Linked DNA regions of Homo sapiens: all the other regions are linked to region 6. Evidence: fine-mapped expression QTL. A gene starts in region 6. Each other region holds a variant in brackets. All regions are shown on one strand. Distances are between the middles of the regions.

Region 1 (4,067 bases), 39 kb before region 6:
ATCAAAAACAGGTTGTACAATAGGCCAATTGGAAGCAACCATCTTTTACAAGACATAGATGACTGAGTAAGGAAGGAAGGAAGGCCTGGGTGTCTTTAGAAGGAGAGCAGAGGGCAGGAGGGGTAAGTGCAATTCTTGCAATGGCATAACAATCTGTATTAGATAGCAACATTAGTCCTACTCAAGAAGAATAGGCCGGCATGGTGGCTCACGCCTATAATTCCAGAACTTTGGGAGGCCAAGGCAGGTGGATTGCTTGAGGCCAGAAGTTCAAGAACAGTCTGGCCAACATGGTGAAATCCCATCTCTACTAAAATATAAAAATTAGCTGGTCATGGTGACAGGTGCCTGTAATCCCAGCTACTAGGGAGGCTGAGGCAGGAGAATTGCTTGAATCCAGGAGGCAGAGGTTGCAGTGAAGAGAGATCATGCCACTGCACTCCAGCCAGGGCAACAGAGTGAGACTCCGTCTTAAAAAAAAAAAAAAACAAACAAAAAAACAACCACCATATTGTTCATCACAAAGATATTAAGAACACTTCACCACAATTCTAATTTTTTTTAATCTTTTTTTAAAAAATTCAAGTTCTTAAATTGAAATTTTCCTATTTTTAGAAGTTTTTTTCCACTGATAGAACACAATGCTAACATTCCAAATAGCTTTTTCAGGGGTAACGCTAGATTTTGGTTAAACTATACCCTCTCATTGACTTGTCTCTTTATTCTCAAATCCACCATCCTCACAAGTCCTTTTGGGTCAAATAACTTATAACCCCTTAAAGCTATCTCTTACAGACCCCATCAATTATTAGGTTGGTGCAAAAGTAACTGCAGTTCTTGCCATTACTTTTAAATGATTAGAAACTGCAATTACTTTTGCACCAACCTGACACCTTCTACTAATCCCCACTTACACATTTTTCTTTGATGTGAAGCATTTAGTTACTGGACATTTCTGGTGTGTGTTCTTCTAATGACCTACATTAACTGGATTTGTTATAGAGTGGAAACCTGGAGGTGGCAAGAACTAATTTTACTTGCTCATACGAGTAACTAACACAACCATCAGGAATGCTAAAGCGCTGCTTATGATAACAATTCTCTTAAAAGAGAGTAATCTATAGGCTGGGCGCAGTGGCTCATGCCTGTAATCCCAGCCCTTTGGGAGGCCGAGGCAGGTGGATCACGAGGTAAGGAGATCAAGACCATCCTGGCTAATACAGTGAAGCCCTGTCTCTACAAAAAATACAAAAAAAATTATCTGGTCGTGGTGGCGGGTGCCTGTAGTCCTAGCTACTCAGGAGGCTGAGGCAGGAGAATGGCGTGAACCCAGGAGGCAGAGCTTGCAGTGAGCCGAGATCGCGCCACTGCACCCAGCGTGTGCGACAGAGTGAGACTCCATCTCAAAAAAAAAAAAAAAAAAAAGAGAGTAATGTATCATAAACTTTCCTGTAGTGTGATCATTTTCTGGACTTACCATTAAGTTATAGCTCTCATCAGCATAAAACTGGATACATTTTAAGATACTCCTTGATTTCTAAAAGAGAAAACAGAATGGCATATTAAAAAACCAGGAAAAAAAGAAAAGGAAGCAGTCAAGAAGCAAAACTTCACTATTTCCATCAATGAAAATGTAATGATTAGTGAACTGCAGTAATAATAATGTCAAAATCAAATTGTTCTTATAAAAAAGAGTGCTGGGGCCAAGCACTATGGCTCATGCCTGTAATCCATGTTTTAGGAGCCTGAGGCAGGTGCATCACTTGAGCCCAGGAGTTCAAGGCTGCAGTGAGCTATGATCACACCACTGCACTCCAGCCTCAGCAAGAGAGCAAGACCCTGTCTCTAAAAAAATTAATATTTTTGTAAAAAAAAAAAAAAAAAAAAAGGAGTGCCCGTGAACTAGTTTTTTTACCTTCAGGTCAATGTAATATAATCTCTGTTCTGACATATCCCACTGAGCCCAAACGAAATCCTCAGCTATTCTGTCTCTTGGGAGATGGCCAGAATTTTTAATCACCTAAAAATG[CAA/C]AAAAAAAAAAAAAAAAAAAAGTATGAATAACTTTTAAAGGAGAACATATCTGGAATTCATAATTATTTTCCATGTCTATCTTTATGATACATGTAAATATTTCCACAGTTCACTGTTAGAAGCTCCCCACCCCTAGTATACACAGTCTTTCCAGAAATGTTTTAAGACATAATTTCATTGCCTCCTCTTCTTCCCACGTATAATATATGATTTTATTCCTGCTCTTAGTTTAGCAGACAGGCTGAGGCTGTTGAAGACAACACCACACCTCCCACAAATCAATAGCTGCATTAATAGAAGATTCGGAACTTACTGTTCTGTACCTAACTCTCTTAAGTCAAGCCTCTGCAGACAAGAGCCCTCCACTACCAAAGACAGAGGCTGTGATGCCAAGGAAAAACTCAGGCCTGACAGTGGAAAGTAGTAGGCAATGACCCCAATTTGGCCATAAACCAACCATGCAGCTTTGGGCATGCCTCTCACCTTTATGTCTTCCATGATGAGTATGATGATATTGCCCATCTCTCAGCAATACTTAACTACTCATTCTTCAAGACCTGACTTACACATTGTGTTCTACACAAAGCCTTCCCTCACATCCCCAAGATGTAGTATAATCCTCACCTGTTTTCCAATGGTGCATTGGCATGCTGCTTTGACAATTACATTTTAATTAATGCTATAAGCCTCCCCCAGTGAGTACGCACTCTTCTACAACACGTTTCTATTACCAATGCATTGACTGTTTCTAGCATGTAACAGTGCTCAAGGAATGTTTGTTTGGAAGGCGGAAAATGGGCTGGGCACAGTGGCTCATGCCTGTAATCCCAGCACTTTGGGAGGCCGAGGTAGGTGGATTACCTGAGGTCAGGAGTTCAAGACCAGCCTGGCTAACATGGTGAAACCCCATCTCTACTAAAAAAATACAAAAATTAGCCAGGCATGGTGGTGCATGCCTGTAATCCCAGCTAATCAGGAGGCTGAGGCAGGAGAATCGCTTGAATCCAACAGGCGGAGGTTACAGTGAGCCAAGATCCCACCACTGCACTCCAGCCTGGGTGACAGAGCAAGAGTCCATCTCAAAAAAAATAAAAATAAAAAACAAAACAAAAAACAACAAAAAAAAACAAAGGCAGAAAATGAAATAAGGTGTGCAAGAGTAAATTTGAAATATTTGTTTACTAAGTAACAAAGTCAGAACTATGGAACATTAAAATCAGGAGATTCTAGAAACCATGCAATTCAACCCCTTAACAGGTAAGAAAACTGAGGTCCTGAGCAGTTAGATTAGGCTGCATAGTTAGTTCTGCAAGGTCTGGAATCCACGTCCTGGAATCCTCCCAGTGCCCTTTCAGTGCATCAGCTGACCTCGAAATAATTTAACAGAAGCAGTTAAGAATTAACTTTCCTCAAAATGCTTATTAAGCAAAAGTAATCTACATTGAGGTAGATGAGTAAAGAATAAGGACAGGTTAGGGTAGAAGAAATGAGGAAAAAAGGAAACACCAGAATGGTCCATATTCATGCCTAAACCCTCCCTAATCCTAATAGGGATTTCTCCACCGATGGTAACTTGCAACTTGAGGGGGGCCATGTGGCATAAAGAGTTGTAAACCACTATTTCCGCTTACCCTGTCCATTATATTTAGACAAGAGGAAAGTGATGCCAGAGAAAAGATCCAAGAGGACCTGTCTGTCTCTAAACCTTGGACAATCATTTTTCTGAAATTTGTTGAGTTGGAGTAGATCTGAGAACCGTTCCAGGTAAAGGTATGTACTAACAAGAAAATGAATGTCAGATTGTGGCATACCCAGGTTCAAATCTCAGTTTTGTTCCTCTCTAGATCGAGTCACCTCACCTCTGTGAGTCTTGGTTGCTGTCTTCTCTGTAAAAATAGGGATAAGCCTAATACCATCTCTATCATGCAGGGATGTTGCAAAGAATATGTGGAATTGCATATTCTTTGCAACATCCCTGCATGATAGAGATGGTATTATACTTATGCTGTGTGAAGCTGTCATCTAAGCCTTTAAG
Region 2 (4,067 bases), 130 kb before region 6:
GGTCATGCAGACCAGAGCTGCTGGGGTTAGAACATTCTTACTTTGTTTCCTCCCCATATTCTCCATTCAAGGAGGGGTCTTTCTCCTGGCATGATTACAAAGGATAGATTTTTGCCTGTTTATGGGGAAATCACAACCAGAAATATTCAACTTGAGAAGAAACTAATGGGCCTAGCAACTTAATATAGAGCAGACTCACACCAGAACTACATTCCCTGGCCCCCTGCCTGTGTGCTTCTGGCCAGGCCTTGGTTGGCAAGTCTGACCCGAGAAAAGGATCTGCAGAAAATCAGACTATGGGATCACTTTGTTTGTGCATTGGGAATGACATTCTTTCCCACCCCAGGAAAACCTTTGGGACTTTCAGAGACATTGTGGCTAGCCAACCACATGGTCAGCCTCAAAGTTGAGAGGCTCAGTAACCCTCCTATCCCTAGAGAATTCCAAAGTGTGGATGTAATTTAACTAGAAAGCCATTGGTGACTATCTGTGATCCTCTGGAAGTATGCTATGTTGTGTATATCTTGCATCCAAAGCCAGAGGGAACCACAATGACTAGTAAAACGGTGGTCTCAATGCCCACTTAGCCTCTGCCTCTGAATTTGACCATAGTGGCGTTCAGCTGATAGAGCGGGAAGAAGAAATATGCATTTTTTATGAAAAAATAAATATCCAAGAGAAGATGAAACTAAATGGAGAAATTGAAATACATCTACTGGAAGAAAAGATCCAATTCCTGAAAATGAAGATTGCTGAGAAGCAAAGACAAATTTGTGTGACCCAGAAATTACTGCCAGCCAAGAGGTCCCTGGATGCCGACCTAGCTGTGCTCCAAATTCAGGTGGGTGAGTGATCACGGGACACTTCCTCAGACCATTTATTTTTTTCTGCCTTTATTAGTTTGTGGGTGAGTTCTTGCATGTAAACCAAGCCATACTATTTCTGGGACCTATAAGAATCCATCCATCTTGTTTAAAAATACATTTGAATGCTACTCTAGGATGGAATCTGTGCTTCAGGCATCCAGGCTACACATTGTCTTTTTTTCTTATGAAGCATTTTCTGCTTTTCTTGGAATTTGAAGACTCCCAGGACTTATCTCTAGCTCAGCTTCCTCATAGCTCAAAATTTAGTGATCTAGACTCTCACTACCCTCAGCATAATTATGTCGTTGCTGCTTGCTGGACAGATCTTGAGGATGAGCCAGCACTCTTACTTTTGATACTCTGGCCCCCAGAGCAAGAGATTGTCTGGAGATTGTTGCTTATTAGTAGTTGTCAGTTACATATAACTTGATTCTTTATTAACCACTGTAGTTCTATGATAGCTTAGTAACCTGGCCTTTGACATGGCCTTTTTTAAAGTGGAATAGATCCAAAAAACTAAAACATGAAATAACAAAATAAATAAAATGTGAATATAAAGTTACTTTCTTCACATGTGTTACTTGGGGTTTATTCTTCATAGAATTTTTTTAAAAATTAAAATAAAAACTGTGTAGCCTAAACTTGTTCCCATTGACCAATGTAGCAGGAACAAATTCTAACCTATAATATTTTTTTTTAAATGTCAGGTTTGCGTTTGGATTTTTTTTCCTGATAAAAAGTTAAGACATTTGGTGAATGAAATTTTGTAAAAGTATAAAAATTATAAAGAAGAAAATAAAATTCTACTCCCAAGATATAATTGCTATTAAAATTATCAAAAATCTGGGAGACATCTTGTCATTTATTTTCTAGGTATACAAGTAAATGTTTTTCATTAGCTCATGCCCTAGACAGTTTTAGATCCCCCTTTTTTTTAATCATGTGAAGGGGATTCATAGGATTTCATGGGACTAGATGATAGATCTGCTTTCATATTTTATGCCATTTGAATGTGTATATGCTGTATAGATAATAGCCTCTTTCAGTTTGCACAAATATGCCAATGTTCTGATTCCAAGTTTGTTTGTTTTTTTAATTTAGCCTTGAGTTCTTCCACTCATTTCTTCAGTAAGTGTAGTCAGATTGAGATCGATTGGCTAGAAAGTCCCCCTAAACTCCCACAGGCCTCCCCAGGCTTCCTGTGGCTCTGACTCCTGCTTCCAACAAGGTTCATTTGAGGGATCACCCATCAGCCTGCACACACAGTGCCTGTGCCACTTCTGTGCCATGTCTGCAAAGGCACGGAACTCACCCCTTCCTCAGGCTACACCTACACAAGACCATTCA[A/T]GCGAGGCCTCTGTGGACAGACTTTATTAAAGATGTGGGGCAATGGTATGTGGGGTTACATTACAGAAATGCAAAGCACTTCAATTTGATATCAGATATCCATACTCTTCTTGGGGGCACTGGAGACGCTTCCCTGAGCACTAATACCTTGTACCACACCCTTGCCTAGCTCGATTTCACTGGCTTCTCTTTCACCTCCCCTCTCCCTCCACAGCCTCCTCATCCCAGATTGCCCCCAGGAACTCCATGCTTGCCCCCACTCCATTTTACAGAAGAATTTGTCTCTCTCCAGCTTTTTCCCAAAATGAAGATTTAGGTCCATCTTTGCCCATCCTAAACTATCAAGATGCAGAGCAACACAAAAGATCTTTAAATTCAATAAAATCTGCAACAGAATAATTTCCTCTCTATTGTATAAGCATATTCTTTGTGTTCACTGCAAATCAATACTTCCATTCAGTGGATAAAATTGTTCTTAGAAAAAAAATTGTCATTTTATTATATAAAACCTATTATCTAGTATGAAATGTAAATTCACTTTTACCCAAGAAGGAAATATTATGCATTTCATAACACTACACTCCCTGCCTGATGGTGAATTTTGATCATTTTGATTGCACATGAACTGAGACATGCAGACTGTGTTATCAGTTATCTGCTCTACCGGAGTGAATTCTGATTATCTGCTCAGCATCAATCATGTGTACCCTTGAAGGATATGATGTGAAATTTCTAGCTTCAGGCAAGCCATTTCTGTGCCCTGTTCTGCAGTGTCAGATCCCGGTCATATCCTGTCATTTTTTACAGCCACAGTGTCTTGGGGTTTGTTTTTTTTTTAAGTCTTCTCCCTTTTTTGCATCATTTTCAGAATTCTCTTAAGGTTTGCATTTTTTTCGGTCGTCCATAACAGTTTTTAATTGTCCAACAATCTAATCCAAGGATTATCATGAGTCTGTTCTCCTGGTTCCTATAATGATAGCTCAATTTTAGGAAGTTATATGAACTATTTTGGGACACAAGGACACTATTTTACATAGACAGAGTAAACAGTTTTTCCTCAAATGCCAAGGGAAAACTAAAATTGAGACATCCCTTTATAAGCAAGCACTATATTTTTGTTTCTTATTTAGTTTCCTAATTAAGAAAAGGGAACATTAAGTATTGTTAATAATAAATACAACAAATGCTTGATTACATATGTATGTACACTTCAATTCTATATTAAGGACATTTAAGGGATGTAGATACAGGAAAAAGAAAAATGTTAAATTATTTGTCAGCATTTGTAATTATTTTTGTAGGGAGGAGGAGCATAAATTAAATTTTAAAAATGCTACCTGTATCAGTCTTAGACATGTTGTAAAATACCATCAATATATTATCTCATATGATGGATCAACCCCATGGCACTGAGCCTTTTCTTCCCATTTGACAAGTGAGGAAACTAAGGTTTAGAGAAGATAAATGATTTACCTGAGATTACACAGGTATTCAGTAGGAAAACTGAAAATAATGCTTGTTGGTTGTCACCATGCTCCGTATCTCTCTCCCTATAAAACAAAAACTAAGTGTGGCTACCATTCCTATTTAGGAGTAGCCATGTTTCTTCATTCACCACCAAAATCTCATTGATTCAACAAATAGAGTTGATACATATGACACTATATTAGGGATTTAGCAGAAAAAATACAAATAGCCCAAGCTGTTCCTCACAGAGTGTACATTAGGTAGATTCAATAATTAAGAATGTTTTTCTCTTTCTTTGGGAAGCCATTAAACCTATTGCCAGCCAAGTGTTTTGAAATGAAGTCCAGTGTGTTGTATGTGAGTTACCCTGGTCTCTGTAACAACCTG
Region 3 (4,067 bases), 74 kb before region 6:
ACATCTCACCAATTTCAAATCGGGTAGGCAGTCTTTTCACTCTCTTTTCCAGCCTCTCTTGCTACCCTTCAATCTCCCTGTCCTTCCAATTCCAGTTATTTTTCCTCTCTAGTAGAGACAAAGAAGACACATTTTATCCGTGGACCCAAAACTCCGGCGCCAGTCACAGACTCGGGAAGATAGTCTTCCCTTGGTGTTTAATCGCTGCGGGGACGCCTGCCTGATTATTCACCCACACTCCATTGGTGTCTGATCACCGTGGGGATGCCTGCCTTGGTCATTCACCCACATTCCCTTGGTGGCAAGTCAATTGCGGGGATGCCTGCTTTGGCTGCTCACCCACATTGCAGCCCAGGGCTGCTCACTACCCCCACCCCTTCTCCGTGTCTCTACCCTCTCTTTTCTCTGGGCTTGCCTCCTTCACTATGGGCAACCTTCCACCCTCCATTCCCCCTTCTGCTCCCTTAGCCTGTCTTCTCAAAAACTTAAAACCTCTTCACCTCTCACCTGACCTAAAACCTAAGCATCTTATTTTCTTGTGTAACACCGCTTGGCCCCAATACAAACTTGATAATGGTTCTAAATAGCCAGAAAACAGCACTTTTGATTTCTCCATTTTACAAGACCCGGATGATTTTTGTTGAAAAATGGGCAAATGGGTCTGAGGTGCCTGACTTCCAGGCATTCTTCTACACATTGGTCCCTCCCTAGTCTCTGCTCCCAATGTGACTCATCCCAAATCTGTCTTCTTTCTCTCCTGTCTGTTCCTTCAGTCTCCACCCCAAGCTCTGAGTCCTTGAATCCTCCTTTTCTACAGACCCATCTGACCTCTCCCCTCCTCCCCAAGGCTGCTCCTCACCAGGCCAAGCCAGGTCCCAATTCTTCTTCAGCCTCCACTATCCCACCCTATAATCCTTTTATCACCTCGCCTCCTCACACCTGGTCTGGCTTACAGTTTCATTCCACGACTAGCCCTTCCCGACCTGCCCAACAATTTCCTCTTAAAGAGGTGGCTGGAGCTAAAGGCACAGTCAAGGTTAATGCTCCTTTTTCTTTATCCGACCTCTCCCAAATCAGTTAGTGTTTAGGCTCTTTTTCATCAAATATAAAACTCAACCCAGTTCATGGCCCATTTGGCAACAACCCTTAGATGCTTTACCACCCTAGACCCAGAAGGGCCAGAAGGCCGTCTTATTCTCAGTATGCATTTTATTACCCAATCCACTCCCGACATTAAATAAAGCTCCAAAAATTAGATTCCGGCCCTCAAACCCCATAACAGGACTTAACTAACCTCACCTTCAAGATGTACAATAATAGAGTAGAGGCAGCCAAGTAGCAACATATTTCTGAGTTGCAATTCCTTGCCTCCACCGTGAGAGAAACCCCAGCCACATCTCCAGCACACAAGAACTTCAAAATGCCTAAGCCACAGTGGTCAAGCATTCCTTCAGGACCTCCTCCCCCAGGATCTTACTTCAGTGCTGGAAATCTGGCCACTGGGCCAAGGAATGCCCACAGCCTGGGATACCTCCTAAGCCGTGTCCCATCTATGCGGGACCCCACTGGAAATCAGACTGTCCAACTCGCCCAGCAGCCACTCCCAGAGCCCCTGGAACTCTGGCCCAAGGCTCTCTGACTGACTCCTTCCCAGATCTTCTTGGCTTAGCGGCTGAAGACTGACGCTGCACCATCACCTCAGAAGCCTCCTGGACCATCACAGATGCTTTTGGCAACTCTTACAGTGGAAGGTAAGTC[T/C]GCCCCCTTCTTAATCAATACAGAGGATACCCACTCCACATTACCTTCTTTTCAAGGGCCTGTTTCCCTTGCCTCCATAACTGTTGTGGGTATTGAAGGCCAGGCTTCAAAACCCCTTAAAACTCCCCCAACTCTGGTGCCAACTTGGACAACATTCTTTTATGCACTCCTTTTTAGTTATCCCCACCTGCCCAGTTCCCTTATTAGGTCAAGACATTTTAACTAAATTATCTGCTTGCCTGACTATTCCTAGGTTACAGCCACACTCTCATTCTGCCCTTTTCCCTAGTTCAAAGCCTCCTTCGCATCTCCCCTTGTATCTCCCCACCTTAATCCACAAGTATAGGACATCTCTACTCCCCCCTTGGCGACCAATCATGCACCCCTTACCATCCCATTAAAACCTAATCACCCTTACACTGCTCAATGCCAATATTCCATCCCACAGCACACTTTAAAAGGATTAAAGCCTGTTATCACTTGCCTATTACAGCATGGCCTTTTAAAGCCTGTAAACTCTCCTTACAATTCCCCTATTTTACCTGTCCAAAAACCAGACAAGCCTTACAGGTTAGCTCAGGATCTGCGACTTATCAACCAAATTGTTTTGCCTATCCACCCCACAGTGCCAAACCTATATACTCTCCTATCCTCAATACCTCCCTCCACAACCCATTATTCTATTCTAGATAAACCTAGTTGACCCCATAGATCCTAAATCCTTTCCCCACTCTCCTTTCCATTCCTTAAAAAACAGCTCCCACACTAGCTCTCCCTAACTTATCACTCCCTTTTCATTACACACAGCCAAAGTGCAGGGCTGTATGGTTGGAGTTCTCACACAAGAGACGGGACCGTGTTCTGCAGCCTTTCTGTCCAAACAACTTGATCTTACTGTTTTAGCCTAGCCTTCATGTCTGTGTGTGGCAGCTGCCGCGCTTTAATACTTTTAGAGGCCCTCAAAATCACAAACTATGCTCAACTCACTCTCTACAGTTCTCATAACTTCCAAAATCTATTTTCTTCCTCACACCTGACGCATATACTTTCTGCCCCCCTCCACTACCTCTCAGCAAGCCGAACTCATTGCCTTAACTCAAGCCCTCAATCTTGCAAAAGGACTACGCATCAATATTTATACTGACTCTAAATATGCCTTCCATATCCTGCACCTCCATGCTGTTATATAATAGGCAAAAAGAGGTTTCCTCACTATGCAAGGGTCCTCCATCATTAATGCCTCTTTAATAAAAACTCTTCTCAAGGCCACTTTACTTCCAAAGGAAGCTGGAGTCATTCACTGCAAAGGCCATCAAAAGGTGTCAGATCCCATCGCTCAAGGCAACGCTTATGCTGATAAGGTAGCTAAAGAAGCAGCTAGCATTCCAATTTCTGTCCCTCACTGCCAGTTTTTCTCCTTCTCATCGGTCACTTCCACCTACTCCCCCACTGACTAACTTCTACCTATCAATCTCTTCCCACACAAGACAAATGGTTCTTAGACCAAGGAAAATTATCTCCTTCCAGCCTCACAGGCCCATTCTATTCTGTCATCATTTCATAACCTCTTCCATATAGGTTATAAGCCGCTAGCCCATCTCTTAGAACCTCTCGTTTCCTTTCCACCGTGGAAATCTATCCTCAAGGAAATCACTTCTCAGTGTTCCATCTGCTATTCTACTACTCTTCAGGGATTGTTTAGGCCCCCTCCCTTCCCTACACATCAAGCTTGAGGATTTGCCCCTGCCCAGGACTGGCAAATTAATTTTACTCACATGCCCGGAGTCAGGAAACTAAAACACCTCTTGGTCTGGGTAGACACTTTCACTGGATGGGTAGAGGACTTTCCCACAGGGTCTGCGAAGGCCACCGTGGTCATTTCTTCCCTTCTGTCAGATATAATTCCTCGGTTTGGCCTTCCCACCTCTATACAGTCCAATAACACACAGGCCTTTACTAGTCAAATCACCCAAGCAGTTTCTCAGGCTCTTGGTATTCAGTGGAACCTTCAGGCCCCTTACCATCCTCAATCTTCAGGAAAGGTAAAATGGACTAATGGTCTTATAAAAACACACCTCGCCAAGTTCAGCCTCCAACTTAAAAAGGACTGGACAATACTTTTACCACTTGCCCTTCTCAGAATTCAGGCCTGTCCTCGGGATGCTACAGGGTACAGCCCATTTGAGCTTCTGTATGGACGCTCCTTTTTGTTAGGCTCCAGGCTCATTCCAGACACCAGCCCAACTTGGACTGCACCCCAAAAACTTGTCATCCGTACTATCTTCTGTCTAGTCATACTCCTATTCACT
Region 4 (4,067 bases), 96 kb before region 6:
ATATGCAATAATAAATCCATTCATGTTTAGGCAACTAATCTTCAAAAGCACCAAGAACACACAATGGGGAAAGGATCGTGTATCTCTGATAAATGGTGTTGGAAAAACTGTCCATAGGCAAAAGAATGAAATGGGACCCTTATCTTTACCATAAACAAAATTCAACTCAAAATGCATTAGAAAGTTAAACATAAGACCTGAAACTGAAAAACCCCTAAAAGAAACATAGAGGGAAAGCTTCTTGACATTGGTCTTGGCAATGATTCCTTGAATATGACATCCAAAGCACAAACAATGAAAACAAAAATATGTAAGAGGGACTACACCCAACAAAAAAGCTTCTGCACAGCAAAGGAAACGATCCTGGGCCTGTTGTGGGGTGGGGGGAGGGGGAAGGGATAGCATTAGGAGATGTACCTAATGTAAATGATGAGTTAATGGATGCAGCATACCAACATGGCACATGTATACATATGTAACAAACCTGTGTGTTGTGCACATGTACCCTAAAACTTAAAGTATAATAATAAAAATATATATGTATAAAAGGAAACGATCCAAAGAGTAAAGGCAAAACCTACAGGATGACAAAAAGTGTTTGCAAACCATATATCTAACAAAGAGTTAATATCTAAAACATATAAGGAACTCAAACCTCAATAGCAAGAAAACAACCAGATTAAAAAATGGGCAAGGGACTTGAATAGACATTTCTCCAAAGATTGCAGACAAATGGCCAACACTTATGTGAAAATATGCTCGACATCACTAATCATCAGGGAAATGCACATCAAAACCACAATGAGGTATCACCTCACATCTCTCAGGTTGGCTACTATCAAAAAACCACAATTTAAGTGTTATCAAGAATGTGGAGAAATTGGAATCCTTATACACTGTTGGTGGGAATGTAAAGTGGTACAGCCACTGTGGCGAACAGTATGGAGGTTCCTCAAAAAATTTAAAAAAAAGAATCAATATATGATCCAGTAATCTCATTTCTGGATAAATATCTGTAAGAACTGAAATCAGGATCTTGAAGAGATATGTATATACTCCCATGTTTATCACAACATATTCACAATAGCCAAGATAGGGAAACAACCTAAATGTCTACTGACAGATGAAGAAAGTGTAGAATTTACAATGGAGTATTACTCAGCCTTAAAAAATGAAATCCTGCTCCATGTGACAACATGGATGAAACTTCAGGTCATTACACTAAGTGAAACAAGCCAGTCACAGGACAGATACTGCATGATTCCACTTACATGCAGTATCTAAAGTAGTCAAACTCATAGACACAGAAGGTAGAACAGTGCTTGCCAGGAACCGGGGAGTAGGGGATAAGTAATTGCTGTTCAATGGGTATAAAGTTTCAGCTATGAAAGATGAGTAAGTTCTAAAGACCTGCTATCCAACATTGTACCTATATTTAACAATACTGTATTGTGCATTTAAAAATTTGTTAAGAGGGTAGGTCTCAAGTGTTCTTACACAATAAAAAAATGAACTGATATGTAATGAGCACAAGACAGTTTATAGCTAACAGGGGCTTATTTCTCATAATGGATACTGATTTCTATGTACATCTTCCCAACTAGACTCTTACTAATCTTTGTAATTGCTCTAATTTCTAGCACGTTACCGGTCATGTCATAGTTGCTCAACAAAT[A/G]TTTGTTGACTAAATGAACAAATGACCAATTAAATGAATGACTGCATATACATCTCCCCAGGATGTTTTGTGGCCTGACTTGATCCTATTTAAAAATTCCAAGGGAATTTTTTAGCCTCCAAGCGTATAAGAATCAGTTCAATTCTTGGCACCAAGCCAGACCGACTTCCCAGTGTTAATCTTCAGACATCTCAATCAGATAAACTAGGCCTGGAGACATCAGAGACAGAGCTCCCTGAATTAGTTCTACTAGTTCAAATTATCCTAGAAAGCTGCATGGGGTAAGCCTAGGTTCCCTAAAGTTAGTAATAAGCTACATCATAGTTTAGTAGTCAGAGGAGCTCTGGTCAGCAGAGACCAACCTAAGGGCCCATCACTCACAGTAACACCAGATACACAATTTCTCATACACAAGTCTCATCATCAAACTTATAATGTACCAAAGGCAAGGGCCCATATGAAGAAGAAATAAATTTATTATACCAAAGGACAAAAGAGCCAACACTTACCAGGAGGCAGAGGTAAAAACAAACTGTTTGTAGCTTCCAGAATCCTGGTCATGATGTGAAAAACTGCAAATTCAGCAGCACTGCCACGACTATTGCTGGGTAAAAAAAACAAAGCAGCATGTCAGCCAAGGAGCTCATCTGTGATGCTCCATTTGTCCTAAGCAGTGGCTTTGAGTACTACACAAGGGTTCATGCTAATCATGAAATGCTATGCCTTGTAGAAAGCCCCATAAATATGAATGTGACCATCGGCCTAATGCCTAGAATTTAATCAGAGTAGGAACATATGTTACACATTGTATTAAGTGAAATTCCCCTTCTTGGCAGTACTGGGCTCATTTGTCCCTCCCCTGTCACCAACCATGTGCCAGGGAAAGAGGATGGGTAAAGTAACGGGCATAACTTTGTTTTAATTTTAGCTTTTATTATACATTAAAGGGTACATATGCAGGGGGGCATAACTTTAAATGCTGAGTATAGAATTAAGCTAGATGGTGTTGAAGCTGGTGAGAACTGATTTGAACTAGTGCATTTCAAAAGGGTTTTGCTACAACAGAGTTGTTTCCACTCTTTGTACACCATGATAAAAGTGAGAAATACTTGCGTACAAGTGGAGAACCCAGGAATGAAGATTATGTTTCCTCCAATTGGTTTCTACGATGTGGCAAATGAGATCCAGCTGGAGGGTGAAGACAGTCCATTAACCATTGCTCCATTCCTTCCCTCAAGGGCCCCACAGCTAGGCCTCCACAACTCAGATAAGCATTTCAGGGCAGCTGGCATTCAGGCTGCATCCAGACACACAACTAGCCTTTCTGAGGTCAATTCTGAAGCACTGAACCCAAAATAGAAAGACTGAAAATGTGCACCAGAAACTAACAAAGCATCCTCTGTTTGTGTGGGCAGTGCCCCAGCTCAGCCTCCCCAGCCCAGCTAACTGGCCCCACCACTCACACTTACAGACCCCCATCCATCAGTGAAGGTAAAGTGCTACAGGGTTTGCTCCAGGCCTGTCACAACGCAAGAGCCAACAGTGGACAGTCAGAAGAAAAGAGACACAGAATGGAGGTCATGATCATGAGCTGTGAAGTAAGACTGGTATCAAGTCCAGATTCTATACATTACTAGTTGTGTTACCCTACACAAGTTACCCACCCTCTCCAAATTGCAGTGTCCTCATCTGTAAAGTGAGGGGAAATATTTCATAGGGTTTTTGTAAGAATTGGTTAGCACACTGACTGGAACTAATCAACCAAAGTAGGTAGCCTTCTTTGTCTTAGAGCTTTATCCAGAAACCCATTCTAACGCTGCAACGAGTTTGCCAGCAGAAGAGCAGTCCCTATGGAGTTGTTATCAGCCACGAATCCACACATTGTGTGGGCTAAAAACGGGGCAAAGCAGAAGGATCTCCATAGACTCACAGGCAAACGCTATCCTTGATACAGATCCTCAGTTTCTCTTTGGCTGAAATTAAGTAAGTTAACATGTAACCAATATAATCAGGTTCTGCAGCAACTTCCTTGGATATGTTTTAGAAAGGATGCCAGCCACTCTCCTTAGAGGGGAGCAGAAGGCATGACTAGTGGCTGCTGGGCAGGGGCAGGGAGATGTGGCCTCAATCAGTGACTGCTGAGTCAATGTCAGGGACCTTGAGTTTTCTGAGACTTCATATGTATCGTTTCTGGGCCTATTGGTTCTACAGGCTGTTAACACAAACTAGTGTTAAAACTTATGTTATTAACAATGGAGAAAAATGACGCTTGAATGGAAACCCTTCTTAGCACTTTGGGAAGTAAGATTTCGAGTCAACAGAAATAAAGGTGATAGGTGGATGTGTTAAATCACTGTGTGTTGTGAGTTTTTTTTTTTTTTTTTTTTTTAAA
Region 5 (4,067 bases), 90 kb before region 6:
CGGCCTCCCAAAGTGCTGGGATAACAGGTGTGAGCAACAGTGCCCAGCCATGTTTGCCATACTATTTTAATGGCTGTGCAATATTTAATTTTATAAAAGTACTATAATTATTTCCTTCTTGTATATGTGAGATTTTTCTTTTACTATTGTTGGCATATCTAAACTAACCTCTCCTAATATATTAAAAACTATGAAACTCAAACCTTACCATAGAAATTCAAATATATTATGTAGAAACAACACTAATGACTGCAATAAAGGCAGAAAACTTGAAAATTAAACCTAAACTAATAAATAGATTATCCCATTCTTAAGTCCACATGGTATTAAAAAATATCTTATTAGGCTTTCCAGATGTCTCTTTAATCAGCTTTTTAAAGGTTTTGGATTTATTTACAAATTCTGCTTTTCAATTGAAAATTTATTTTGATTCATATTTTTTTGGTCATCCTAGTATTATGACTTCTTGAGAAAAAGTACTTTGTTCTGTTGTTTTTATGTTGTTGTTTTGTGTTGTTTTCTGAGACGGAGTCTCCCTCTGTCGCCCAGGATGGAGGGCAGTGGCGCAATCTTGGTTCACTGCAACCTCCACTTCCTGGGTTCAAGCGATTCTCCTGCCTCAGCCTCCTGAGTAGCTGAGATTACAGGTGTGCACCATCATGCCCAGCTAATTTTTGCATTTTTAGTAGAGACAGGGTTTCACCATGTTGGCCAGGCTGGTCTCGAACTCCTGACTTCAGGTGATTCGCCCACCTTGGCCTCCCAAAGTGCTGGGATTACAGGCATGAGCCACTGTGCCCGGCCTGTTCTGTTGTATTTGAAACCCCAAATACAAATGCCACAAAGATGCAGCTCTTTCCTTTTTTAAAGCACTCTCAACACTATACACTCCTTTTATCATGGTTTGTAAATTACATATGTATTGGTGTGATGCATGTGTGTCTTCCCCCTTTGACTACACATTCCAAGAGGGCAGAAATCATATGGGTTGCTTACCACTGGGCACACAAGGTCCATAATGCTGGCAAAACATACTTGTGCAAAGAATAAAGAATAAGATCAGAATGAGAAGCCCACTGTAATCCTTTCCCCTTGTCTTAGGGTTCCTTGTTTGCCAGCCCCTAAAGAACCCACGTACCACTTACCAGCCCCATGAGCAGCCGCTGGTGGCTGTCTTCCTCCTGCAGGAGGGGTGTTAATCTTGGCCCTGAAATGAAACAGAGCAATAGTTAGGCTCTGAGCAGTTTTCAGGAGATGGGTTAGAAGGAAGAAGAATCAGCCTGGGTTTCCCTTCTCTGAGTCATTGAGAAAACATAACACAGGATGAAAATTTTTCATCACCTAAGTGTGACCTAGTCCTACAAGGTGAACTTATCAGAGCTGTGTGAAACAGGGAATGACCGAGAAAGAAAGAAACCAACACATTCCTCAACCCCAGTAGGCTCTAGCTTTGATTTTTGTTCAACACTAAAACTCACTGCTAAGAACCTCTGCTCCACTGGAAACAGAGGGACTTGGGCCTTCTCTTAACCCTTCTGGGGTCATAAATTGAGGGAACAGCGCTCGGTGGAAGGACTGCATGGCTCCCTTCTACTTTCTGAACCCTGTAGTTCAGTAGCCTTGGGAGTTACTGAGCTGAGGGGGCCAGTCAATTACTGCAGCAAATAATACTAACTGGCACAAGTTATCAGACTACAAAGGTAGTTAGGTAAAGGTGGAAAAGTGATATGTTAAATCAAATGGTACCTTCTCCACCATGATTTGCAATGCACACTACAGTGTAGTGGCCCTAGGGGCAGACAAACCCAGTCTTGCTGGAAAATCTGCCCCAAAGCGCTTCTAACTTCTTTGTATTCCATTCTTTTCTTCTTAAATACTTGAGATCCAGTGCCAGGCAAGAGGGCAGAACCACCCTGCTCAGTGGGCTGGCAACTCCTTCTGGGAGGGCATCGATATCTCTTGACCCCCCGGGATAAATCTTCCCTGGATCCTACACAACCCTCGTGATTGAGATGAAACAATTTAACATGTGAATCCAACAGCCCTGCATTTCACAGAATGTTCTGTTTCAGGCAGTGACATTCTTTATGGGGAACTAGTATACGCAAAGCACGTGCAAGGAAAGGGAAGAGTTTCCTAAAGTGCATTAAGATAGACTGACTAGTAACAGGATGCAAACGGCCCTGACACATACAGTAGCTCCATAAGCAGGGCAGGAGGGGTGGCACGACAGAAACCTCAGCCAGACCAGCAAC[G/A]TTCCCCGTGTTGCGAAACCCCCAGCAATGCAAGGATGATAAGCCTGAAACACACACACACATGCCCGTGTCTGGCAGGGCAGATCCCCTGGCTTCAGGGATTGATGGCCTGGTAAGGCAGAGGCTGGTTCCTCCTGGGCTGGTCAGTGAGCCCAGGCTCTGTCAGCCTAAGCTGGATGACAAGTGCACTGTCACAGTTCACTGTGCTGTGTGCACAGCTGGAGGAGGTGCAGCAATGCACTGTATAAAATAGTTTCCATTAGAATCACCCAACATCCAAGCCCATAAAACAGGAGTGGGATATAAAAACAAAAGCTTATTTAATGAAGGCTGACCTTCATGAGGCACGAAAGTGTTCTTCTGGCAACTACAAATAAGCCTGTGCCTGAATATGCTCAGCATTCCCCTCCCCTGGTTTCACTTGGCCAAGTCCCCTTTGTTTATCAAGACTTAACTCACCTGTCAGCCCTCTGGGGAGCCTCTTCCAACCTCCCTCCCTCCTCCAGCCATCCCCGCTCCTAACCTATCCTCTCACTCCCCGCACCTATGGATTATATAATACCTGTCATTTGGTTTAGAAGCCACATGTTAACATTTCTTCTTTACACACTAAGGAATAAAGCAGCCACCTCAGGTACCCTCATGTGCTAAGCACTATGTTAGGTGCTATCTGCATTACCCCATTTAGTCTCATTTTCTCCTCACTCCCCTAAGGACAGTGCACAAATGGGTAAGTGACTTGCCCAGGAGCACATGGTTCACACAAGAGGCCATGCTGGAATATAAGTCCAGCTCTGTCTAGCTCTCAAGCCTGTGCTCTTTCCCCCAGAACCACACTGCTTACCTGGAAGCTCCTCATCTTTATGCCTCTAGGACCTGTGTGCCCAATTTTTAACCCAAATGAGAGGCACAAACAAGGCAAGACCCGGTAGGATCAGACAGCTAGAAAGCAAGCAGCACCAAGCCAAGGGAAATGCCAAAATGCATCCTGTGGGCACAGCCAGAGGGCAGCTCTGTATGACAGGAAATAAGGAGAACCGCAAGGCCATCACCCAGGGACTCCCATCGCAAAAGCACATTCAGCAGCTGTCCCCGGAGGTCCTGGTGCCTAGACAGACATGGGAAGAGCCGTGCGGCCACTCTAACAGCAAGATATTAAAAGGTGCTGCCTGCACCACACTACTGGAAGTGATTCTCTTGCCAACCCACAGTGGTAGGAAGAACAGTGCTACAAACAAAACACTGACTGGAACCCAGAAGGCTTTATTACAGATCTTTTCTTACCCAAATTTCTTGCTTCTAGGTTAGAAATCACCCTACGAAGAAATTAGCCATGTTATTCACAGACAGCATTGCTTTTAAAAAATTTAAAGCCACATCATACAAAGATATCCTCCTTTAAAAATTCATAAAAACCACTGTAGAAACTATTCTCAAGCTGCTGAAAACCTCAAAAACTTTGATCAATGTAGTGAAAGCCACATTAGGCAATTAAAAAATCTCAAAACCCTTTAGTGCCAACAACGGCAATAATTTAGAACAACTGTAGCTCTCAGTTATTGAAAATAATGGGGACAGAAAATAGAACAGAGGTTGGAATGGGGCCTATACTTTTAGTACTCTGAGATGACTCATATATCCAGAAAATAGGCTTTCAAAATAAAAGCAAGCTCACTAGCCCACTGACACTTTAAAAAAAAAAAAAATCAACCTACTATTTGCCTTTCTCTCCTAAAATGCTAATAGGAAATTTCTTTACCAATTATCCATTGTAAACATCTATCCGCAGGTTACAAGTCTATAAGGTTCAAC
Region 6 (4,067 bases):
CAAGGAAGCCAGGTCCCAGTGGGTCACACACAGCTTTTCAAGCACGACACACATTACGGAAACATAAGACTGTGGCATTTCACACTCATCTAACTTCTCATTTGCAGACACCTGCCATTTAGCAAAATAAAGTGGGAGTCCAGAAAAAGGAGTACTTGGTAGTAGAAGACAGAGCTGCCTGTTGTATTTCAAAAAGTTAAGCCTTCAAAAACTTTTCAGACATGTGGGCGACTTTTTTTTTTTTTTTTTTTTTTTTTTTTTTTGAGACGGAGACTTACTCTGTTGCCCAGGCTGGAGTGCAGTGGCGAGATCTCGGCTCACTGCAACCTCTGCCTCCCAGGTTCAAGCGATTCTCCTGCCTCAGCCTCCCGAGTAGCTGGGATTACAGGAGCGTGTCACCACGCCCAGCTAATTTTTGTATAAAATTCTTCCTTGACCACCCTCTCCACCTCGAAAAAAAGTAAAGCCTTACTAAGCATGACACTAATGCAAACTCAATGCATACGCTACACAAACATATAACTCCTTATTTGGAGCTAATAATATTCCAAGCCAAGGAAACCTACAAATAATTTCGCTATAGTCATAGGAGAGTGTGAAGATACAAGATAGCAACTTGATATATAACTCACATCAAGAAAACTTTCACCAGCGTTTAAGGGAAAGGAGTTGTAGATGTGGGTCATTTAATACCCACTTCCAAATTCACTGAAGTGGACAGCGCCCTACACACAAGGTGAGACCTACAGGCATCATTGCTTTGAAGCTGCATTTAAGCTCTGAAGCTCCAATATTTATAGAAGACTTTTAAAACTTTGTAAGAAATCACAAAGTTCCCCTTCTTTAAAACAGATCAGTGCTGGGAAGGCTCAAAAGTCACTTTCACTCCCTTACCAAATCATCAAAAAGCCCGGAGTGGCAGGGCCGGGAGCCGAGCATCTCGCGCGCAGCCCCAGCCTGCACAGGTGCGGAGCTCGGGGGCGGCTGGGGGCTCTCGCCCCGCCGCGCGCAGCCTGGAGGCGGCCCCTGCCCTCTTGCGCCTCACCGCCGAGGCCCATGTCCCCTGAGCCACGGACACGGTTCAACAGACACATAAACACGTCTCGCAAATGTGGGGACAAACTGTTCCACCGTTAGGTATAGGGTGGTTTGCTTGGTGGTCACGGATTCTTTCTCAAAACGTGAAGCTTCCAGGAGCACTCCTGTCTTGGCAAAGCCCCTGCGCTGCCGATGAACCCCCCGGGAGGTGGGATGCGGCCGCTGAGCTGAGCACGACCCTCTGCCCTCGCCGTGAGGTGATGCTGAGGGAACCGCCAGCGGCCCGGCCCCTCTGCCAAGGGCGAATTTCCGCGGGCCGGCAGCGAGCCAGGCGCCTCAGGCCCCACGGCGACCTGGCCCGGGCTCTGCCCCCAGACCTTCCGCCGTGGCTGGGTGTGGGTGGCAAAGCCAAAACAGCCCTCTGAGGAGGGGAGCGACGCCCTCGCACCAGCCTTCTCAGGGCGGCGACGCCCCGGGTTGCTCCCCACCGGGTCGGAGTCCGGGGGGTATGAGGGACTCCCACTCCCCGCCCCCACCCCTCTCCGCAGCGCGCCTCCCGCACCTGCGCCGCCGCTTCCGGCCCCGCTGGCCTCCGACACTGCCCGCTGCGCCCGCAACCACGGGAGCACGTCCTTCCCGAGGTCGAAGTCGGCGACCAGGCGAAGAGCCATCGCCCGGACACGACCACCGGGCGGCTCTGGGGCCCCGCACCGCGGGCATTCCCGGCCCCGCGTGGCCGCCTCGCCCTCGCGTCCCCGCTCCCGCCCCCTCTTTCCTCTCCCCCGCCCCCTGCTGCTTTCGGTTCTGCAGCGCCCTGGCCTGAGAAGCTCCGGCACCAGCTCCTCCCGGCCGGCGGCCCGCACCTGAGCCGGAGCCGGAGCCGGGCACGGCGGGTAGCGGTGGGGCGGGGTGGACCAGGCGCCAGGACCAGGCCCGCCGGGGCGGGAGGCCTCCGCGCGCACCTTCGGGGCTGAGGATAGAGGGCGCAAAGACGTGGGCGCTTCAGGGCCTTGGCGAGGCCGCTAGCCCAGTGGCTTCCAAACCTGGAGGGTCGGCCTATTTTCTTTATTCTACAAGTGCCTCCACTGTGCAGCAAAGTGTGGAAACCACTTGGCTTGAGAGAGCTGGGTCCTCTGGAGCAGTTCAGGGTCACCACAGAAGTAGGCCGTCTCTTGGGCCTATTCGCCCCAGCTTCGAGGTGGTGGTGCTTTATTAGTGTTATTAAGGTAATGAGTAGCAACTGGGAGCGTATGACGAAGGTGATCCCATTGTAAGAGAAACGCTAAAAGGGGTTAATGCGCTTGATACAAACAGCGTCCTTTTTGCCTTTTAACTCTAGTACATCTCATTTGATGCCTTGAGACATGAAAACTGAATCTTAAGTCTCCACGCAAACCCTCTGCCTCCCACCAGGGTCTAACAGAGCACTCTGGAAGGTGCTCGACAATTACTGAAGAATGAGTGAATACAGTAATAAAGAATGCTTTTTCACATGCTTCCGAAATTAAGGTCTGAAAACTACTTGTATTGACGTCATCTGGGGCACTATTTTACAATGCAGACTCCTGATCTCTACACCTGGACAAGACCAGAAACGTGCATTTTACCCAGAGCCTCGGGTGATTCTTAGGCTTACTAAGTTTGAAAACTACTCCAACCAAATGTAAAAGAAAGTCTTGAATTTTTTTCCCTCCTAGAGACATGTTTCTCCAACTGAGGTAATGGATGATTTCAGGTAGAACTCCATTACTCACCACCATATACAGAGGAAAGTCCTCCCACCCGGGAAGTGCATGCAAATTTAAGATAAATGCCTAATGAAGCTGCTAATATTATCAGTGAATAAAAGGAAGGCCACTGGAGCCCCCAAGGAGCTAATGCAACTATTTCATATCAAATAAGCTTGTTGCCTTTGTCATACAGAAACACTGTTGGCCAATTTTTTAAAGTCAGTACATTTCCATTGTTTTTATTTTTGCAGTTAACTTCTATTTTTGCCAGGCAGGACTGATTTTATAGTCAAGCAGTGATGATATAAAAAATTCTCTTCAAATTAAGTGAAAAAGCCAATGTAAAGAAGGTGAGAAACAATAAGATAATGATAGAAAGATGTGGCCAAAATCATGAGGGTGCTATATGAAGGCATGTGTATCAGTTAGGATTAGATTCTCCAGAAGTTAATAAGAACTCAGATTAACAGTAAATTAAACACACAAGTTTTATTCTGTCACCTAGCTGGACGTAGGCAGAATAAAGCTCTTAGGGCAGGTTCCTGAATTTATCAGGGACCCAGGCTCCTTCCAGTTCTTTGCTCCACCTGATCCTGAGTGTACCCTTGTCCTCATGATCAAAGAGGGCTGCAGAAGCTTCAGCCTTCACGTCTGCATTCCAGAAATCAGAATGGAAGAAGAGGAATAAAAAGAGGATGCTACCTCTCTTTTAAGGATACTTCCCGGAAGTTCTACACAACATTTCTACGTATGTTTCACTCACCAGAATTTAGTCACATGGCCAAATGTAGCTTTCAAGGGAGGCAAGGAAATATACCTGGCCATTGCTGTGCCCAGATAAAAATCAGGACGGTATTACTGAAGAAGGTGGGGAAAGTAGATATTCAGAAGCAATTAGAGATCTCTGTCAGAGTATGATACCCGATTCCGGCCACTGAGTTGTAAGGAAACCTCTGCTATGACAGATTTCTCTATTCTTAAAACAAGAGACATGGGAAAAGATGGTCCCTTTCAGTCTTTAACTATTTCGGGATCTAGATATGATTGCTGGAATTTCAGCCATCTAGCACACTGAAAATGGAGTCATTGGAGTCAGGAGAGTCCAGAGAACTGCAGAGAAGAGAAACCTTGGTAAATTATTTTTGGAGCCATCCTCTGCCCTTTCTGATATTAGAGATGTTGAATTTCCTATTGTTTAAATGATATTCAGTCAGACTTTTATTTTACTTGCAACCAAGGGTTTCAATTTTAAGGAGTGATCATTTCAAAATTTAGGGCACAGGCCAAAGAGCACTATAA
Region 7 (4,067 bases), 65 kb before region 6:
TTTTCTGCACAGACAGAAGCTGAGGGCAGCTTCCAGCTTCTAACCTCTACTTTAAATAAACCTTGGAGGGCATAAATAACAGTGAATATAGCCTATCTCTTGCCTCAGGAAAGGACACATTCTTTAAAGTCACAATTATAATAGGTGACAGGGTCTCTAAAGTAAAGGAAAAGACTATTACAAAGAAATAGAGAGCAAATAGGGTATTTTTATACATTTCTATTAAAGAACGAATGAGGCAAATTATGTTTGCACCAAATGTAACGATAAAGGGGAAATGTTTCATTATCAATACTCCTTCCTCTCTCTTCTTTCACTTAAATGTATTATAGTTGGCCCCTACCTCACTAGAAGGAATCAAGACTAACAGGATTCTTGCATGACTTGACTGGGTAATTTTTCTGTACCTCATTGTCCTCTGTAATTTCAGAGGTAGGAGCCCCCCATACCCAAAGGACTATAAATCATGCTGCTATAAAGACACATGCACACGTATGTTTATTGCGGCATTATTCACAATAGCAAAGACTTGGAACCAACCCAAATGTCCAACAATGATAGACTGGATTAAGAAAATGTGGCACATATACAACACCATGGAATACTATGCAGCCATAAAAAATGATGAGTTCATGTCCTTTGTAGGGACATGGATGAAATTGGAAATCATCATTCTCAGTAAACTATCGCAAGGACAAAAAACCAAACACTGCATGTTCTCACTCATAGATGGGAACTGAACAATGAGAACACACGGACACAGGAAGGGGAACATCACACTCTGGGGACTGTTGTGGGGTGGGGGGAGGGGGGAGGGATAGCATTAGGAGATATACCTAATGCTAAATGACGAGTTAATGGGTGCAGCACACCAGCATGGCACATGTATACATATGTAACTAACCTGCACATTGTGCACATGTACCCTAAAACTTAAAGTATAATAATTAAAAAAAAAAAAAAAGTTTCTGCAGCAGCCAGGTGCAGTGGCTCGCGCCTGTAATCCCAGAACTTTGGGAGGCCAAGGCTGGCAGATCACTTTAGATCAAGAGTTTGAGACCGACCTGGCCAACATGGTGAAACCCCGCTCTACTAAAAAAAAAAAAAAAAAAAAATTAGCCAGCCATGGTGGCAGGCGCCTGTATTTCCAGCTACTCAGGAGGCTGAGGCAGGACAATCACTTGAACCTGGGAGATGGAGGTTGCAGTGAGCTGAGACTGCACCATTGCACTCCAGACTGGACGACAGAGCAAGACTCCGTCTCCAAAGAAAAAAAAGAGTTTCTGCAGTGCTATCATCATGGCAAATCTGAAAGGTGAACAATTCATTTCAAGAAGGGCAAATGATAGCATTCTGCTAACTAGTGAGTGTTAAAACAGAAATTTAATAAAAGGATAAACTTTCAAGATTGCCTTTTATTCACTATTATTTTGAAAAGTGTATCTGTATGTTAATTATGTAATTAGCCTCTCATCTGGTCAAATCAGCTTTCATTTCCTTAAAAAAAAGTAGATAAGTATATAAGAAAATATTTTAGGAGATGTAATGTAGAAATAAAAATTGATATTTGTCTATAATTTAAATGACCGAGATTTTACTGATATAGAATATTCCTGTAAAAAAGGGTATCATGGGGACAGAGAAATAAGTTTTCAGAACATGCAAACAACTAAGTTCTTCAATGTGACAGTTGAAAGCCGTGATAAGAATCTATTGTGTGCTTCATTTATCACTACAGAGGATACCTCAAAAAAAATTAAAATTTCATTACAGTTTTGGTTATAAATAGCATTTTAAAAGAGGTATAGTTGTTTGCAAAACATAATTCAGGATTATCTATGTGTAAGGGCATCACATTTTCTATTATCTTAAAAAATCCAAGTCAGTTGTCTCCTACAAAAATGTGAAATCCATGTTTTCGCCTGTGGAAACTTTTTATTAAGGTTGTAGCATTAAGAACATTTGCAGATAAGAGAAAAATAAATGATTTGCATCACAGCTAATGATAAGCATAGACTGATAGATTTTCAAGATTAGAAGAGACCTTTAAGGTAACCTAGTCCAACCACAAGAAGTTTAAAGCAACATGGCAAACCCCAAGATTAGTTCAGTACAGGGAGGTTATAACCACAGGTTTCTTTATATCGCTCTTCTTGGACTTCCTGATGTCACCCTGTGCGTGTCCACAATAGCTGCTCCACCCTGCACAATCTTGAGAAGTGCAAAAGGGAAGCGTTACCCTCAGGGTGATATTCTCACACCACATCCAATTAACATGTGGCTCAGTCTTTTAACACAACCCTGGGAACCAGTGGTCCCAGCTGCCTCCTGGACACTTTGAACACAGGACATAACAGCAGGGGGTTGGTAAGGGAGGGAGCGGAGATGTGCATTTCCTGACTCTGGGGTGGTGTAACCTGCAGACTTCCTGCCATGTGACCACAGGGTCTGCATGTCTATTCACATGTGTTCCAAAAGAAAAACGTGGGTGCCTAGAGAG[G/A]GAACAAGTTCAGGCCTTTCTTTCCCTTAAATTCTAAGGTGGGGCATAAAAGTCTAATAACCACGACAGTAAAAGACAAAGAAAAGGCCTTTAGGAAAGCACTGCCACTGTGCATACCAAAAATTTAGAAATTAATCAAACACACTTGATACATCTTTTTTAAGGACTATATTTAGACAGGGTCTAAACATAAAGTGTCACCATTTACTCTAGTACATATTTTCCTATGACTGTGTTATTTAAATTCAATTTATTTTTCTAAGTACCTTTTTGATATAAACTTCTGCCTCAAAAGCAAGCATGTAGTTCTAATATCTAAATAAGAAACATGAGGCAGAACTTTTTCAGGCACAGCCTATGTACGGTTTTCACTTGCTGGGCCAGCAAAGCTCTGTCTACTGTACCATATTCAAGAGAAAATGAGCAGTGTTTTAGCTCAGCACATCCTAATTTAAAAGGAGGGAGTCAGAACCGACAGGGAGAAAAAGTCATTTGGGGTGAATGTGCCTAAGATTGCTGACTTTTACTGATCCTGAAGCTCTAGAGTTATTACAGACTTTTTAATGGGGCTGGAAAAAGGGGTCGTGAAGGTCCTTATCTACCAAGTATGATAGCAGCAATCCACCCATTCCTCACTTATAAAAACTCAGTACATATTTTAATCCACTCTAGTCACTTAGAAAATAAAAATACCATGATAGAGGTTTAGTTCTGCCTGGTAATAGGAAGAATAATAAATACCCTGTGTACCTGCTCCTTTGGTTTTACTGTTTTTATACAAATACTTTTGGCCAATAGCAGGGATTTGCTATTACTTTTCTGCCAAAAAAAATTCAACTGAGTTCTTTATCAGTCAAAACAGTAGTGAAATCACGACCTTGATGGCTATAAGAGAGGTGTCCAACAACTGACCCACAACTGTGAATTGATTTTATTTGCATACAGCATACACAGTGTTAACTTACTGTATTCCAAGTGAGCACTGAGGAATGTGGCAATAGTTTGTCCATGTTACTTGTCTCTGAATATACACTCCAGTATGAAGAAGCTGAGTAGATTTTTTTTGAAACAGGGGGAAAAAAGATGTGGTTTAATAAGATGATGACAGCATTGTAATGCAACCAAAACACGCAAACCAACAAAGTTTTCATTGTCTTATCCCTCATCCTCAAAACGGTAACCATCATGATTTTATCTACTGACTAAAATGTTCAGGTTCTGCTTTTTACAATGAGAAGAATAACTTAGTACCATATCTACCCAAATGACATTATATCATTTCATACGAAACCAGCCAACACAAAACTGGGCTAAGAAAGTTACATCTTACTGGAAAAAAAAATCACTAATAAGGTTATAGAATCAAGATCCTATCTTGTATCTCATCAATCTCTGTACAGCCATAGTTTCTTAGAAAACCACAAGAGAATGAAATTTAATTAGCTGCTGACTCCGATAGAGTTTTGTTTTTTTTTTTTAATGTGCTCCAAAGTAGCATTTGGACAGGTTGAGGCATTCACTATCAATTTACTGCTTTCCCTCAAGCAAAAAGGTCAAGTATTCAACT

What was found. PIP is the estimated chance that this variant, and not a neighbour inherited with it, causes the effect.
Region 1: its variant is the best candidate, but not a certain one, in a credible set for the expression of GSAP in NK cells (Gilchrist 2021, PIP 0.64).
Region 2: its variant is the best candidate, but not a certain one, in a credible set for the expression of GSAP in thyroid (GTEx, PIP 0.66).
Region 3: its variant is the best candidate, but not a certain one, in a credible set for the expression of GSAP in whole blood (INTERVAL, PIP 0.51).
Region 4: its variant is the best candidate, but not a certain one, in a credible set for the expression of GSAP in whole blood (INTERVAL, PIP 0.83).
Region 5: its variant is the best candidate, but not a certain one, in a credible set for the expression of GSAP in caudate (GTEx, PIP 0.69).
Region 7: its variant is the best candidate, but not a certain one, in a credible set for the expression of GSAP in whole blood (TOPMed, PIP 0.90).

What each region holds. Positions count from the first base shown.
Region 1 is chr7:77,375,371-77,379,437 of GRCh38, forward strand. It overlaps GSAP (gamma-secretase activating protein), which reads right to left. Exons shown (of 31, transcript NM_017439.4): 9 at 1,916-2,020; 10 at 1,478-1,537. Among named protein-coding and RNA genes, the nearest start is that of GSAP, 39 kb to the right of the region's middle. The variant CAA/C (reference allele first, on the strand shown) is at 2,030.
Region 2 is chr7:77,281,945-77,286,011 of GRCh38, forward strand. It overlaps CCDC146 (coiled-coil domain containing 146), which reads left to right. Exons shown (of 19, transcript NM_020879.3): 15 at 613-841. Among named protein-coding and RNA genes, the nearest start is that of CCDC146-AS1, 35 kb to the left of the region's middle. The variant A/T (reference allele first, on the strand shown) is at 2,214.
Region 3 is chr7:77,340,491-77,344,557 of GRCh38, forward strand. All of the region lies in intron 19 of GSAP (gamma-secretase activating protein), which reads right to left. Among named protein-coding and RNA genes, the nearest start is that of GSAP, 74 kb to the right of the region's middle. The variant T/C (reference allele first, on the strand shown) is at 1,759.
Region 4 is chr7:77,318,541-77,322,607 of GRCh38, forward strand. GSAP (gamma-secretase activating protein) reads right to left here. Exons shown (of 31, transcript NM_017439.4): 25 at 2,793-2,863; 26 at 2,185-2,279. Among named protein-coding and RNA genes, the nearest start is that of CCDC146-AS1, 72 kb to the left of the region's middle. The variant A/G (reference allele first, on the strand shown) is at 1,676.
Region 5 is chr7:77,325,067-77,329,133 of GRCh38, forward strand. It overlaps GSAP (gamma-secretase activating protein), which reads right to left. Exons shown (of 31, transcript NM_017439.4): 22 at 3,540-3,571; 23 at 1,146-1,207. Among named protein-coding and RNA genes, the nearest start is that of CCDC146-AS1, 78 kb to the left of the region's middle. The variant G/A (reference allele first, on the strand shown) is at 2,256.
Region 6 is chr7:77,414,613-77,418,679 of GRCh38, forward strand. GSAP (gamma-secretase activating protein) reads right to left here and starts at 1,737. Exons shown (of 31, transcript NM_017439.4): 1 at 1,601-1,737. The coding sequence starts at 1,709. LOC101927243 (a long non-coding RNA gene) reads left to right here and starts at 586. Exons shown (of 5, transcript NR_110073.1): 1 at 586-736. RefSeq lists silencers at 903-1,192, 1,253-1,462, 1,683-2,032.
Region 7 is chr7:77,349,479-77,353,545 of GRCh38, forward strand. GSAP (gamma-secretase activating protein) reads right to left here. Exons shown (of 31, transcript NM_017439.4): 18 at 3,466-3,548. Among named protein-coding and RNA genes, the nearest start is that of GSAP, 65 kb to the right of the region's middle. The variant G/A (reference allele first, on the strand shown) is at 2,501.